2 linked regions of the Homo sapiens genome follow. The protein of the gene in region 2 purifies or fractionates together with the protein of the main gene of each other region. This does not show direct contact. Each region holds a gene or a part of one and is shown on either strand. Other genes may lie near its edges.

Region 1 (7,341 bases), on a different chromosome or scaffold from region 2:
AAATACACAGATATACAAATAGCAAAAATTTATTATATACACACACATAAATGCAAAAAGGAAACAGGAAAACACATGAAAACATCAACAGTTGTCTCTGAGCAGCAGGATCCGTAAGTTCTACAAATACTCGCAAAGCACCTACTCTGTGCCAGGTACTTTTCTAGGGTCTGGGAATATGTCAGTGAATTAAACAAATGTCCTGCCCTCTAGAGAGAGAAATACCACAAAAAGAGAAGAAATAAAGATGGAACATAAACTCAGAAAATATCATGAAAAATAAAGTAGGGTAAGAGGGTATTGATGGAGGTGCTACTTTAGACTACTTGGTATAGGAAAGACTCTGATAAGATATTTGAGCAAAGATCTGAAGGAAGTAAGAGAGCAAGTCTGTGGTTAACTAGGGAAGGAGCAGTTGAGGTGGAGAGCAAATGCTCTAAGGTAGAAGTGCTTAATGTCTGTGGAATGGCAAGGAGGCCAAGGTGCCTGGAGCCCAGAGAGCCAGGGCACAGAGGGAGGAATGAAGCTGGAAAGGCAATCAGGTGGCATACCTGTGGACCCTTTATAGGTAAAGACTCTGGGAAATCAATGGGGTATGGAGAGCAGGGAAGTAGAATGATCTGATTAAACTGATCTGATTAAACTTAGATTAAAGTAGAATGATGTGATTAAACTTTGGGTGCTGTATTGAAACAGGCTATAGCTATAGGAGATTACAAAGATTTTCATTTTCTTCCTAATACTTTGATCTATTTTTCTCAATTTTCTACAGCAAATATACATTACATGTATATCAAGAAGGCAAATCATAAAACCATGCTGTTTTTATATTTAAAATTTACTGTAGTTATTCAGGAAGATTCTAGTTCAATACAAAGTTAACAAATATGGTTAAAATGAAATCACAATTTCATATAGTTGAGAGAGCAAACATCAATGCAAGATATTATCTTAGTTTCTTTATCACATAGAAAGGTGATAAAGAAATGAATGGTGGCTCAGGCCTGTAATTCCAGCACTTTGGGGAGGCTGAGACGAGCAGGATCACTTGAGCCTAGGAGTTCCAGACCAGCCTGGCCAACACGACGAATCCCTGTTCTACTAAAAATACACTTACTTCTCACATTACCAAAAGCATGCTAGTCACCTCTGAAAAACCTTGCAACCTGTTAAAATTGCATTTATAATCCCAATAAGCTAATTAAAAAACCATTTCAAGACTCAAATAAAAACTTACCCTTTATTGAGTACTAGACTTTCCTCTTCGGCTTCTGAAAGTATTATCACGTTAGTGGGTGTCTGCGGCTCACGTAGTGAGTAAATTCTAGCAACCAAAAGAGAAGAAAACCAGCACTTAAAATTCTGTTTTCATTTCCCAAAACTGCACTTTCCTCTCCATCTAGTCAGTTCTTGAGAATTTTCTAACACTTATCACAACTATTTCTTTGCAAAAATCTTGCTGTTGCAAAGTAGTCTAGTTCATTTATTCTTTAACTACATAAGGGAGTTTCATTGGGGCCTGAAGAAATGTTCTCTATCCTTACCAATACCCTTTAACAGCCTATTCCATAACATCGCACCTCTGTCACTTCCGTCCTGAGCCCTTAGCTATACTCGCCTTGTCCAGTCATCTCACTATTGCCCCTAAGCTTGCCAGTTTTCCTTCAACTACACACATCTATCTCTGCCTATTGGACACCAAATCCCACCAGAGAAAGAACTGTATCTTATTCTTTATATGCCAACTGGCTGACAGAGTGAGTGATATTTAGCCTGCAAATCTACTTATGTGTTTGTTATATAAAAACCCAATATTGGCCAAGCACGGTGGCTCACACCTGTAATCCTAGCACTTTGGGAGGCCGAGGTGAGCAGATCACTTGAGGTCAGGAGTTCGTGACCAGCCTGGCCAACATGATGAAACCCCGTCTCTACTAAAAATACAAAAATTATTTGGGTGTGGTGGCACACACCTGTAATCCCAGCTACTCGGGAGGCTGAGGCAGGAGAATCACTTGAACCTGGGAGGTGGAGGTTGCGGTGAGCTGGAGGCTGGAGTGAGCCAAGATCACGCCACTGCACTCCAGCCTGGGCGACAGAGCGAGACTCCATTTCAAAAAAAAAAAAAAAAACCAAACAAACAAACCCAGTATCGTATCATCTCTATTTTCAAGGGAAAGTATAATACTGAATTTTTTTAACCAAAATTATTTTAATTTAAAGTAACCTACATTTCACAGCATATAAGGCTATTGTGAAAAAGGGAATTTTCAAAAGGCCAGTAATGTCATTTTAGAAATCCAGTGTCCCTTATAATCACTTATTTTGTCTGACGCCACTAAGAATTTTTTAACTTGGTTTCTTCCAATATCAATAAAATGCCACATTAAGTATTTAATAAATTTTTAATGATAACTTGATCCATTTGAATACACATTTATTACAGTCTTCCTAGGTTCCTACAAGCGTTACTAACTTCAAAATACACATAAATACTAGGCAATAATGTTGTACTGGGGAACAGTGAAAGAAAAAGAAGGTGCAACAGGGCATTCGGTGAAAATTTCCTTTTGCTCTGAAACTGCCCAAAATCTCCAAAGCTTAGGAAAACAGAAGTGTTAAATACCACATATTTTAAAAAAGAACCTTCAATATTTGGGGCCAGATACTTCCTTTGGGGCTTAAGAACTGTACCTATGCTATCTTCCCACCATCTCCTTTTCCATCATAGCATATAAAAGGAAGACTAAGAAGAGAGGATGTCAAAGATTCCTTAGGAGTACAGTATAATGTTTGTAATGGGAAGATTTTCCCTCTCCTCTTTCTCTGCCCTGAACTCTAAAGCCAAATGGGTGGGCAGGGAAGGCTCTAGGAAACAGCCAGATGTGGAGGTACCTGTAATAAGGGAGACTGGTGCATTTCCTAGCTGAATGCCCCTTAGTCACTTAGTAGCTGTCTCAGTTATAAGATCGAAAAAACATAGCAATACACACGTATCACGTTCAGTACTATCTACAGTTTCAGGCATTCACTGGGGGGTCTTGGAACACACACCCTGCAGATAAAGTATACTGTACCCCATCTTGAGAGAAGATTCAGGGCATAGAGAACTGACAGGAGCCAATGGGAGCCAGAGCTCCTCAGTGATGGGGGGAGCTGGAAGTTCAACACTGCCCTCCAACACCACCCCACCCCCCCACATACACACACACAAACACACCATCTATGCAGAGACTACCACATCAACAGAGTTCACTAGTGACAGATGGAACGAGATTCAAACAAGATCAGGCATACTTCCCCATCACTCACAGGCTACCAGTTCGGTAAGATCTCTACCTCACCTGTCCCACTCCCCTACCCCACACTGAAGGAGTTAGATTTGGAGGAAGGAGGGGGCAGCCCATTCCTTACACTTCACCCTATGTTCCAAAGTGCTGGGATAACAGGAAGAGTGAAAGAGCAGACCGCACACTCTCCAATCACTTCTGATCCCACAAAACACAGGTCTGACCTACAAAAGGGCCAGGACATAGTTGTGAAAGATTTGAGATCAAATAGCTTTCGACATTCTTATTTTCTTTAGACAGGGTTTTACTCTGTCACCCAGGCTGCAATCTTCCTACCTCAGTCTCCTGAGTAGCTGGGACTACCGGCACATGCCATTATGCCCAGCTAATTTTTTTTGCAGAGACAGGATCTCACTGTATTGCCCACATTGGTCTCGAACTCAGGGGCTCAAATGATCCTCCCACCTCGGCCTCCCAAAGTGCTGGGATTACAGGTGTGAGCCACTGCAACCAGCCAAGATGAGTTTTAAACTGGACACACTGTTTTCATAACTAGAAGTAACGAGAAAGCTATGGGGATCTGTATAAGACATCATTAAGGGGTGAGTCATTCAGCAGTGAAGGAAGATTTAGTAGAGCACAGTTAAAAGCAGTGATTACGAAAAATAAAACTGAAGGTATCTGTACCTCTGCTGAGTCCCCCCAATAACTTTTTACATAAGGCCGATCCAGAAAGTTAGCTGATAATAGAGTAGAAATCTACGTAGCATTAGGGCATTTAATCATAGAGTGCAAAGCTTGGAAGGGGCGTTAGAAACTATTGAATCAAACCTGCTCAATTTAAAAGATTGGAAACTGAGCCCCCCAACCCCTAAAAAGCTCAAGATCTCAAAGATAACAGAAAAGGAGGTGGGACAATAATTCAAATCTCTAAATTTACACTTACATTCTCTTTCCTTTATGCTACATTATTACCAAAAGGGTGACAATGATGAAAGAGTTTTGGAAAGATTATTCTAAGGTGTCAGATTAGGAGAGGAGATACCTGGAGGCAGGAAGACTAGTTGAGAAGGAATAGTGGTAAGTTAGAGCAGTTAGGCAATTCTTATGATTGAGAATGGGTTACAACAGCCATCCAATAAAAGCACTGACTCATTCAATGACTCACTTCGTTCTATGTTGAGCTGTTAATTGGCAAACAGAAACAGAGCTTTCCCACTCGCAAGGCTTCAAGAGAGAGAAATAAAATTTACCTGATTACGTTGTCTGATGTTAACAGCACTACGTGGGGATCCAGGATTTCACTTGGATACCATGCAGCATGCTTTAGAGTCAGAGAGGTGGAACTGGTGAAAAATCTCTCCGCAACTGGAGTGGTACTAAAATAAAGATAATAATTTTCCAAAACATTTTGTACAACTTGGATGAAAATCTTCTAAAGGAACTTCTTTTTTTTGCAGATGGAGTTTCTCTCTTGTTGCCCAGGCTGGAGTGTAACGGCACAATCTCGGCTCACTGCAACCTCCGCCTCCCAGGTTCAAGTGATTCTCCTGCCTCAGTCTTTCAAGTAGCTGGGATTACAGGCACCTGCCACCTCGCCCAGCGAACTTTGTATTTTCAGTAGAGAGGGGGTTTCTCCATGTTGGTCAGGCTGGTCTCAAACTCCCGACCTCAGGTGATCTGCCCACCTCGGCCTCGCAAAGTGCTGGGATTACAGGCATGAGCCACCACGCCAGGCCCTGAAGAAATTTCTATTTTAACACTCTTTGATTCTCTTTCCTTCAGATTTATTTCCCTGAAATCATGCTGAGAGGACATTCAAGGCATCTATTCAATCAATATCAAAGAATTGAAATAAAAATATCTTCTAAATTATAGCACACTGGCTGGGCGCAATGGCTCACGCCTATCTTAGCACTTTGGGAGGCCAAGGCAGGTGGATCACCTGAGGTCAGGAGTTTGAGACCAGCCTGGCCAACATGGTAAAACCCCGTCTCCACTAAAAATACAAGAATTAGGCAAGTGTGGTGGCACATGCCTGTAACCCGTTACCCGTGAGGCTGAGGCAGAAGAATCGCTGGAACCCAGGAGGTGGAGGCTGCAGTGAGCTGAGCTTGTGCCACTGCACTCCAGCCCGGGCTGAGGAGGTTGCAGTGAGCTGAGATCACGCCACTGCACTCCAGCTTGGGCTACAGAGCCAGACTCTGTCTCAAAATAAATAAATAATTTATTTATTTTAATAATTTAAATTATTTATTTAAATTTTATTTGTTTATTTATTTGAGATGAAGTCTCACTCTGTGGCCCAAGCTGGAGTGCAGTGGCGTGATCTTTGCTCACTGCAACCTCCGCCTCCTGGATTTAATCAATACTTGTGCCTTAACCTCCTGAGTAGCTGGGACTACAGGCGTGTGCCACCACACCCCACTTATTTTTTGTATTTTAGTAGAAATGAGGTTTCACCATGTTGCCCAGGGTGGTCTCAAGCTCCTGAGCTCAGGTGATCCACCTGCCTCGGCCTCCCAAAGTGCTGGGATTACAGGTGTGAGCCATCGTGCCTGGCTCCAAATTATAGCATATTTCATACGTATATATACATTTTAGGATGGTTTGACTTAGGATTGATACATATTTATACAGTACAAGTGTTTTCAGATATAGTATCTCATTTGATCTTTTTACTAACCCTGTAAGGAAATTACAAGGGCAGATATTATCAATCCTATTTTTAAAATGAGGAAACAGATTTAGAAGGTAAACAGTTTAAGGGGACTCAACTTATAAGTTGCGGAGCTAAAAGCAGTTTCTACCTTATACAGATGATCCCCAACTTTACAATGGGTTTACCAGTACATAAGCCAACATAAACTGAGGAGCTCCTTACGACTTATGATGGGGTTACCCATCATAATGTTGAAAAATCCTACGTTGAACCATCCTAAATCGGGGATCCTCTGCTGTGTTGTCAGCAATAAATCCATTTTCAACTTACACTGGGTTTATCGGGACATAACCCAATCGTAAGTTGAAAAGCATCTGTACTCTTTTCAGTAGATCTTTCAGATTCACTTTTCTGGATTTGTTGAAAAAGAAATTATATAAAAATAGGCCAGGTGCGGTGGCTCACACCTATAACCCCGGCACTTTGGGAGGCTAAGGTGGGTGGATCACTTGAGGTCAGGAGTTCAAGACCAGCTTGGTCAACATGGTGAAACCCCGTCTCTACTAAAAATACAAAAATTAGCTGGGCATGGTAGCGCTTGCCTGTAATCCCAGTTACTCGGGAGGCTGAGGCAGAAGAATCGCTTGAATCCAGGAGGCGGAGCTTGCAGTGAGCCGAGATTGTGCCACTGCACTCCAGCCTGGGTGACAGAGCAAGACTCCATCTCAAAAAAAAAAAAAAAAAAAAAAGTATATATATATATACACACATACACACACACACACACACATAAAATACTTACACTTCTGGCAAACTTCTGGCTGACAGATAACTGGTTTTACAAAATCTTACTTCTACCTAATCGAAAGAATGGCCTAGCCTCAAATGAGACAGCAACGTGGTACTTCAGGCAGAATAAAGTACAATCAATTACACATATACTATGAACATTGATAACACAGAAGCCAGTCTGCAGACCACGAGGAGTGTTTTAATGTTTTAAGAGTAGTATACTAAACATGCTTAAGAACCACTAGTCTTGAACAATTTTCTGTATATATAATAAATTATACAGATAAATAGTATACAACTTACCTACAATTCACTGTTGATTTTCCACCTTCAAATTCAGAATTCTTCCCCCATCTTTTAGGTAATTCTAATACCATAAGTCCTTTTATTCCTATAAGTGCTACATGATGTTGTGTTGGGCTTAACAAGACTTGATAGATTTCAAACAGGGGTGGATTTATGCAAAGCAATCTCTGAAAATTAGAGCAAACCAGTCAACATAGTTAATTTTAATTTAAATATAGGTGGCAGTTACTTGAAATCACAGTAATACTTAGTTTACTACAATTATAGGATAATAAAACTCTGGATAAGTAC
Region 2 (7,341 bases):
GTGAAAGATATTGTTAATATAAAAAGGGGCTTAAAGAGTCATCTAATCAATATTTTTGGTTTGTTTTTACTATTTTTACAAAATAGAACAGGTTTTTCTCTTAAAACTAAATTCTCTTTCCAATTAGAAATATATGAAAAACAAACACATACTGTAGGTCTGTATTTTAAATCAGTATTCACAGTAAAGCAATCTCTACTTAAAAAATTAAATGATGAGTAAGAAAAATATTGGTCTAATGTAACTATAGCAAAATGAGCATAATAAATATATATCATTCCTAAGATCCAGTATGGATAGAACATGATATCAGAAAGAGAACAAGTTTTAGACACACACACAAACACATAGATACTTTTTAGGTAGCCTACCCTTCTAGCCACTCAGTTTTCAGACTTCTGAAGTTAATAAATATGAGTATCTTCGGTTCAACCAGAACTCACATTGGTAACAGAAGCTTAATGAATCTATTTAAGTAATCCTTCTTCTTTTGTAACTTTAAAATTATTTCCTTCCACCTATCTTCAATTATTTGTTATGTATTTCTACATACAAGAAAGCTTTTGGATTTATGGCCCAGATTACTGTTTCTCTTTGCCACTTTTGTTACCTAACACTGAGTTACACTATGCGTATCACTGAAAGAAACTAAAATAGGCATCATTAAACAACATAAAGGTTTGACCCATAACTGTATTTATTGATTCATCATAGATTCAACAACATCAGTCATGAAACAAAATATACTTTTTCAGTTCAAAAATTTTCCAACAAAAAAAGACTAACAGTGATTAGTAAAAAGCCTATACTGTATTGGTCTTCTCTCGCCAAAGGAAAAACAAACAACTTACAGAATCATCTTCCTCCTCATCGTCTTCATCTGCATGGTGGAAGAAATGTCGATAATTTCCAGGATTTATTTCTGTATCTTCTGGTCCAACGAAGAATCTGGGGGCTTCACTCATTTTTATTTTATTTGATGTAGATATAATTGAAATGATTTATATTAAAACTGCCTCTAAGTAAATAGTATCAGAAGAAAGCATTCTCCATATATTAGCTGACGCACAGGTCTGTGACAGCTTGTTTCTGCTTATACAATCACTTGATATTATGATGACTGTTGGCAAATACTCTTTTGTTCTTAGATATCATTGCTTCATTGTTGATATCAAAGTTGTTGTTGCAATTCAAAATACAAAGACAGTGAAGTTACTGCTTTCTTGAGTTGATACAGCAATCTTCTTACCTAAAATGCAATGAAAAAACTAATTTTGGAGAGTGCACTCCAAAAACATTCATGTAAAAAATAATTTTTAATGACACTTGTAAAATCAGCCCAATAACTTGATGTATATTGTCAAAATGAAAATACATTTTCTCCCATAAGAAAATTACTTATAATAAAAGCAAAAAAATTAAGAAACTAAAACTGATCTTCAGTAATATACATCTTAGCAATTTGACAAACATATGAATTAACAAAAAGACTACACATTAAATTCCTCATCCCAAAATAGCTAAACTAATTAAGAGAAAATTACTCAAATTATAACAAAATTATATTAAAGCTAAATCTCTTAGCACATAGTTATGAAATATCTGAATGGAATGGAAAAGAACAGACAAATGGAATGCAGCTTTAAAAGCCACTGACAAATATTAATCTGAAATTACATTAAGTCAATTTGTAAAAGTTGTCTGTAAACAGTTTTTTTAGGGAACATAACAATTCTATATTCTGGTCTCATACATAAATGAACAAAAAAAGATTAGAGTCAGAACAAGATTTCATTTAACAGCAGCTCTTAAACATGTAGAAGTCAAAAACTCTTTAACAAATCTAATAAAATCTATGGATCTCCTCCCCAGAAAAAAAAAGTACATGTGCACTAAATTCTGCAAGAATTTTATGTGATTCACTGACATTCAAACTCTTCCACATAACCAGGCGTCCATGAGTATCAGTTAAAGAACTATCATAGCTGGACTCATTGGCTCACACCTGTAATCCCAGCTACTTGGGAGGCTAAGGTGGGAGGATGGCTTGAGCCAAATAGTTTGAGGCTGCAGGGAGCTATGACTGTGCCTCTACACTCCAGCTTGAATAACAGAGAAAGACTCTGTCTCAAATAAATAAATAAATAAATAAATAAATAAATAAATAAGAACTATAAGAGCAGTAGCATCTCAAAATATTCCTTACCATAGTTGTTTACATGTACTTGCTTCCTGGTCATATTAAAATTAATTATATACCAAGATGAAACTACATAACAAATGCTTCATTTGATTACTGGTAGTACAATAAATTACTTGATCAAATATTCTTAAAAGTCAAACAATATGCTAGGTAGAATTAAAAGCATAACTCCAAAAGTTCTATTCCTAAAGATCTAATTCCAGTATAACTTGGTGACTCCCCAGTAGACATTAAAATCAATTTGCCCAGTCAGCCTTCACTTTAACCATCTTTAAAATACAGCGTTACATTTAAAATAATTTGTAATTTAAAAATAAAAGCAGAAATAATTTACTTTATAAATCAATGCCTTTTGTTCTATTCCTCTGTACTGTTTAACATGTAAAAATGTTTACTGAAAAAAAAAACAACAACAACAGAAAGTTTCCAGTGGCTGTAAAACTTCATGTTGGTGGATAAGTTGATCTCAGTTCTGTTTCCTATCAAATGGCAAATATCTCTTGGTTTCTTTCAATTTTTTTACTCTTTCCATCTAAAAACAGCTCAAATATTTCGATAATGGAAGGGGAATGTTCTGGAGTCAGGTACATCTGTTTTAATCTGTCAGTGCTTAACTAGTGACTTGTGCTAGTTGCTATTAGTCTATAAAAAAGGGAGTATAGTAACACCCTGTAACCCTGTAAAGACTAAGTGAGATAGCATAAGTGCTTGGCGTATATTAAACACTCAATAAACCATAGTTTCCATGAACACTCCTGTAAACCAAACTCCCTACTGACTCTAACATGTAAATCTAAAAGAATGAATTGTTCATTATTTGTTGAAATGAATATAGTTATCCAACAAACACTATTTACTTATTATAGAAGGCATAGTATTAAGTGCTGGTTATATAAAGTCAAAGTAAACATGGCTCTTTTCCTTAAGGAGCTTTTAGTCTAGTAGGAAGATAGCCAAATAAATTGACATTTTCTGTTTTAGTGTGATAAACCACCAATAAAAAAGATAATAGAAACATGTAATAATGTAATAAATGTCTATCTACTTCAGAATGGCAATGATAGGAAATGCCAGGTCCAGTATGTCAATGCAATATATAGGTATGTACTTATATGTATACATACATGAATATGAGTGTGTATACACACATTTTATGACATTATTTTAAAACTGTATTGTACTTCCTTCTAGTTAAAGTGTTCTAACAAAGTGAGAACAATACTGTTTTAGAGGTAAAGCTGAAAATTAATTTTTTTTAGCCTTTTAGAGTATTCATTGGAAAAAGTCTGGAATACATACAAATAAAATTTAAAGAATCAGTTAATAAGTCCATGACACAATGGCAGAACTAATGGTTGTAGCTGTGCAGACCTATTGGGCTGTGTTTCCTACTATTCTGTGATGGTTAATACTGAGTGTCAACTTGATTGGATTGAAGGATGCAAAGTATTGATCATGGGTGTATCTGTGAGGGTGCTGCCAAAGGAGATAAACATTTGAGTCAGTGTTCCGGGAAAGGCAGACCCACCCTTAATCTGGGTGGGCACCATCTTATCAGCTGCCAGTGCAGCTAGAATATAAGGCAGACAGAAAAAAAAAAAAAAAACGTGAAAAGGCTAGATAGACTAGCTTAGCCTCCCAGCCTGCATCTTTCTCCTGTGCTGGTTGCTTCCTGCTCTTAAACATCAGACTCCCAGTTCTTCAGCTTTGGGACTCGGATTGGCTTCCATGCTCCTCAGCTTGCACATGGCCTATTGTGGGACCTTGTGATCGATCGTGTGACTTAATACTACTTAATAAACTCCCATTTGTAGCTATATCTATCCTATTAGTTCTGTCCCTCTAGAGAACCCTGACTAATACATAGTCTTTTCAATATAATTCTCCCACATTTTTGAAATACTTTACAAAATATGTGTGTAAGTAGAAATCAACTTTCGGGGAAAAAAAAGTATGTATCCAATAGATTTTTTTTTCCCAAGGGTATGAATTAATGACTGGTCTGTCCCCTTTTGTTAACTTATTCAAGTTCTGTTTAAGTCTGTAATGCTGTATGAAGTATATAGATATATGTCCCTCATTTGATTATGACCTTAGGTCTGAAACATGTCTCATTCATTCATTTGGTGAGGGACTAGGTAAATCAACAAATAAATACATGTTAGAAAGACCTCTTTAATAAGGTGACATTTAAATATAAATTTAATTTAAATGAGAAACCAACCATGGGGTTATATGGTGTGAACATTCCAGGTAAGAAACATCAAGTATAAAGCCTCTAAAGCAGAAGTATGCTTGGCATATTTCCCATGTTCATGAAAGAGTAAGGTGGAGCAGAGCAGGCAAGCAAAGGAAAAATGGTAAAAAATCATGTCAGATAAGTAGCTAAGATGCACACAAAGGACTGAGAAGCCATAGTAAGAATTTTCAATTTGTTAAATGTGATTGCACTGCATTTAGGGAAGCTGAGGCAGGCGGATCACTTGAGGCCAGGAGTTCAAGACCAGTCTGGCCAACATGGTGAAACCCCGTCTCTGCTAAAATATAAAAATTAGCCCGGCATGGTGGCATGCGCCTGTAATCCCAGCTACTCAGGAGGCTGGGGCAGGAGAATCACTTGAACCCTGGAGGTGGAGGTTGCAGTAAGCCGGGATTGCACCACTGCACTCCAGCCTGGGCAACAGAGTGAGACTCTGTCTCAAACAAACAAGAAAATAGAAGGAGATGAAATACAGACAAGTTATACAGACAGTTATTTTGAAGAGTTTATAAAAGATGGACAGAGGAATTGGACCTCTAAAGGACATAAAGTGAAGGAAGCCTTTCTTTTTTTTTCTGTTATTCCACTTTAGTATATGAGAGATACTTAGAGATGTCATATAAAAAAAAAAAAACTGAACAGGCTAGTGGTTAAGAGCATGGATTCAGGGGTTAAAATACCTGGGTTTAAAACCTGACTGACTCCAATTAGCTGATCTTGAGCAAGTGAGTTAACTTCTTATGGCCTCAATTTCCTCATCTGTAAATTGTACATAGCTCATAGGTCATTTTAATGATGTTATATGTAAGATAATATACTAAGAGTGCTTGTATCCCAACGTCTAGGCTATACTCCACATCACTTAAATCAAAATGATTGAGAGTAGAGTTCGGGTAATTTTAAGTCTTCCCAGGTAATTCCAATGTGTAGCCAAGTTTGAGAACCAGTTTTTGAAAACAAGTACTATAGGAAATTTCCTATAATAAAAAGGAGATAAAACCGATGAAGCAGAATTTTTGTCTTCTGGTGGTTGGCACATCTCAAGTATCCAATAGATACTCCTCTACAAAACTTGCCTTAACAATTTACAAGACCTTCTCCGAATCATTCGTTTTGACCTTTGGTCACATATAACCTTGTTATTTAACAGCTTGGGTTATGTATATCCCTCCACAACATAAATCTCAAGGGAAGGAACATTTATTAGGCACTGTTACCTAGTAAGTACCTTACTTGTAAATTCAGAGCCTCCCAACATGTTGTCTCACCATAAATGAATTGTAAGTATGCCAAGAAATTAATTGCCTCAGCCTTTAAGGCAGCTGTTATACCCTGGCCAGTTGCTTCCAGTAGCACTCTCTTCAGTTTCCCCAGGATACTGTACAAATACTACCATTTTCTAGGTATGCCTTAATATGAAAAAAGTTGGGAAGAAATTACTTACTACTTTGTGATTTAACAATCTCACAGCCATCCTGGAATTAGAAATATATTCTTCATTTTATAAATGTTTTATGTATGTAGATATGTGTCCATTTTGTCATTATAAATTAAGACTTGAGGTTCAGAAAGTTCAGGTAATTTGATCATCATCACAGAGCCAATAAGGGTTGCAAATGGAAGTCAAACCCAGGTCTGTTTAAACCAAAGGCCATTATACTAAAGAGCAAAAATGAGGACTCCACAGTCCTTATGACAGCATGGCAAATATAAATTCTCAGAAAACTAAAAATATAAAATAAATTCAAATACATTTCTGTCACCTAAGTAGGATATATGTCGTAGTACAAGAGGAGATTTTTTTTTTTTTTTTGAGATGGAGTCTCGCTCTGTCCCCAGGTTGGAGTGCAGTGGCACGATCTCGGCTCACTACAAGCTCCTCCTCCCGGGTTCACACCATTCTCCTGCCTCAGCCTCCCAAGTAGCTGGGACTACAGGCACCCACCACCACACTCAGCTAATTTTTTGTATTTTTAGTAGAGACGGAGTTTCACAGTGTTAGCCAGGATGGTTTCAATCTCCTGACCTCGTGATCCTCCCGCCTCGGCCTCCCAAAGTGCTGGGATTACAGGTGTGAGCCACCGCGCCCGGCCAAGATGAGATTTTATGAGCATCATAAGAGATGCAGGACATTCAAAATGGTTTGTATTATTTCACTTAAAGCGCTGATACTTGAACGAAGTACAGTTTATACATATAGCACTTCCATATTATTTAGCATTTTGATCAATGTTCAGTCATTAATTTCAACATATGCTAACTGTCTGGGCATAAAGATACATACATTATTCAAATATCAGTGTTGAACCTTACTTTATTTTTAGAATTCCTTCTATAGCAGTGGTCCCAAAATGGACTGGTTACATCAGAATTATCTGGTAGACTTGTAAAAACACAAGTTACTGGGCTTATCACAGATTAGGAATTCCTAAACAGTAATTCTTAACTAGAAAAACTGTATTTTTACAAATGGATGAGCAGCCAGGTTTGGGAATCTAACTGTACAAAAGACAAATATCCCTTAAACCTGATTTCTAAATCTGAAATGAGTGTTATGCTACTAAAAATGTCCACACTCAATGCAGTAGTTCTCAAACATTAGCATGCAACAGAATCACCTGTAGGGCTTGTTAATACTAATCTCAAAACTCTGGGGGTGGGGCCCAATATTTTGCCTTTCCAAAAGTTCCAAGGTGATGCTGATGTTGCTCGTCGTCCTGGAATCACACTATGAGAACAATTGCTCTAGACTCAAAACTGGGTTTGAAAACTTTTTCTGCAAGTTGCTCAGCTCTGTGTCCTTAGTCAAGTTATTGAACCTCTCTAGTCATCATCTGTAAAATGGGATTATGAATCTCATATATTGTTTTGACAATTG

What was found.
Region 1: the proteins of PPIP5K2 (region 2) and NUP88 purify together in Homo sapiens (affinity purification with mass spectrometry; 2 studies listed by BioGRID). This does not show direct contact.

Annotation. Positions count from the first base shown.
Region 1 is NC_000017.11:5,409,466-5,416,806, forward strand, and holds part of NUP88 (nuclear pore complex protein Nup88), read right to left. Parts: intron 7,218-7,341; coding exon 7,048-7,217; intron 4,670-7,047; coding exon 4,544-4,669; intron 1,325-4,543; coding exon 1,238-1,324; intron 1-1,237. UniProt on the Homo sapiens protein: Component of nuclear pore complex.
Region 2 is NC_000005.10:103,123,214-103,130,554, reverse strand, and holds part of PPIP5K2 (inositol hexakisphosphate and diphosphoinositol-pentakisphosphate kinase 2), read right to left. Parts: intron 1,250-7,341; 5' UTR 966-1,249; coding exon 852-965; intron 1-851. UniProt on the Homo sapiens protein: Bifunctional inositol kinase that acts in concert with the IP6K kinases IP6K1, IP6K2 and IP6K3 to synthesize the diphosphate group-containing inositol pyrophosphates diphosphoinositol pentakisphosphate, PP-InsP5, and bis-diphosphoinositol tetrakisphosphate, (PP)2-InsP4.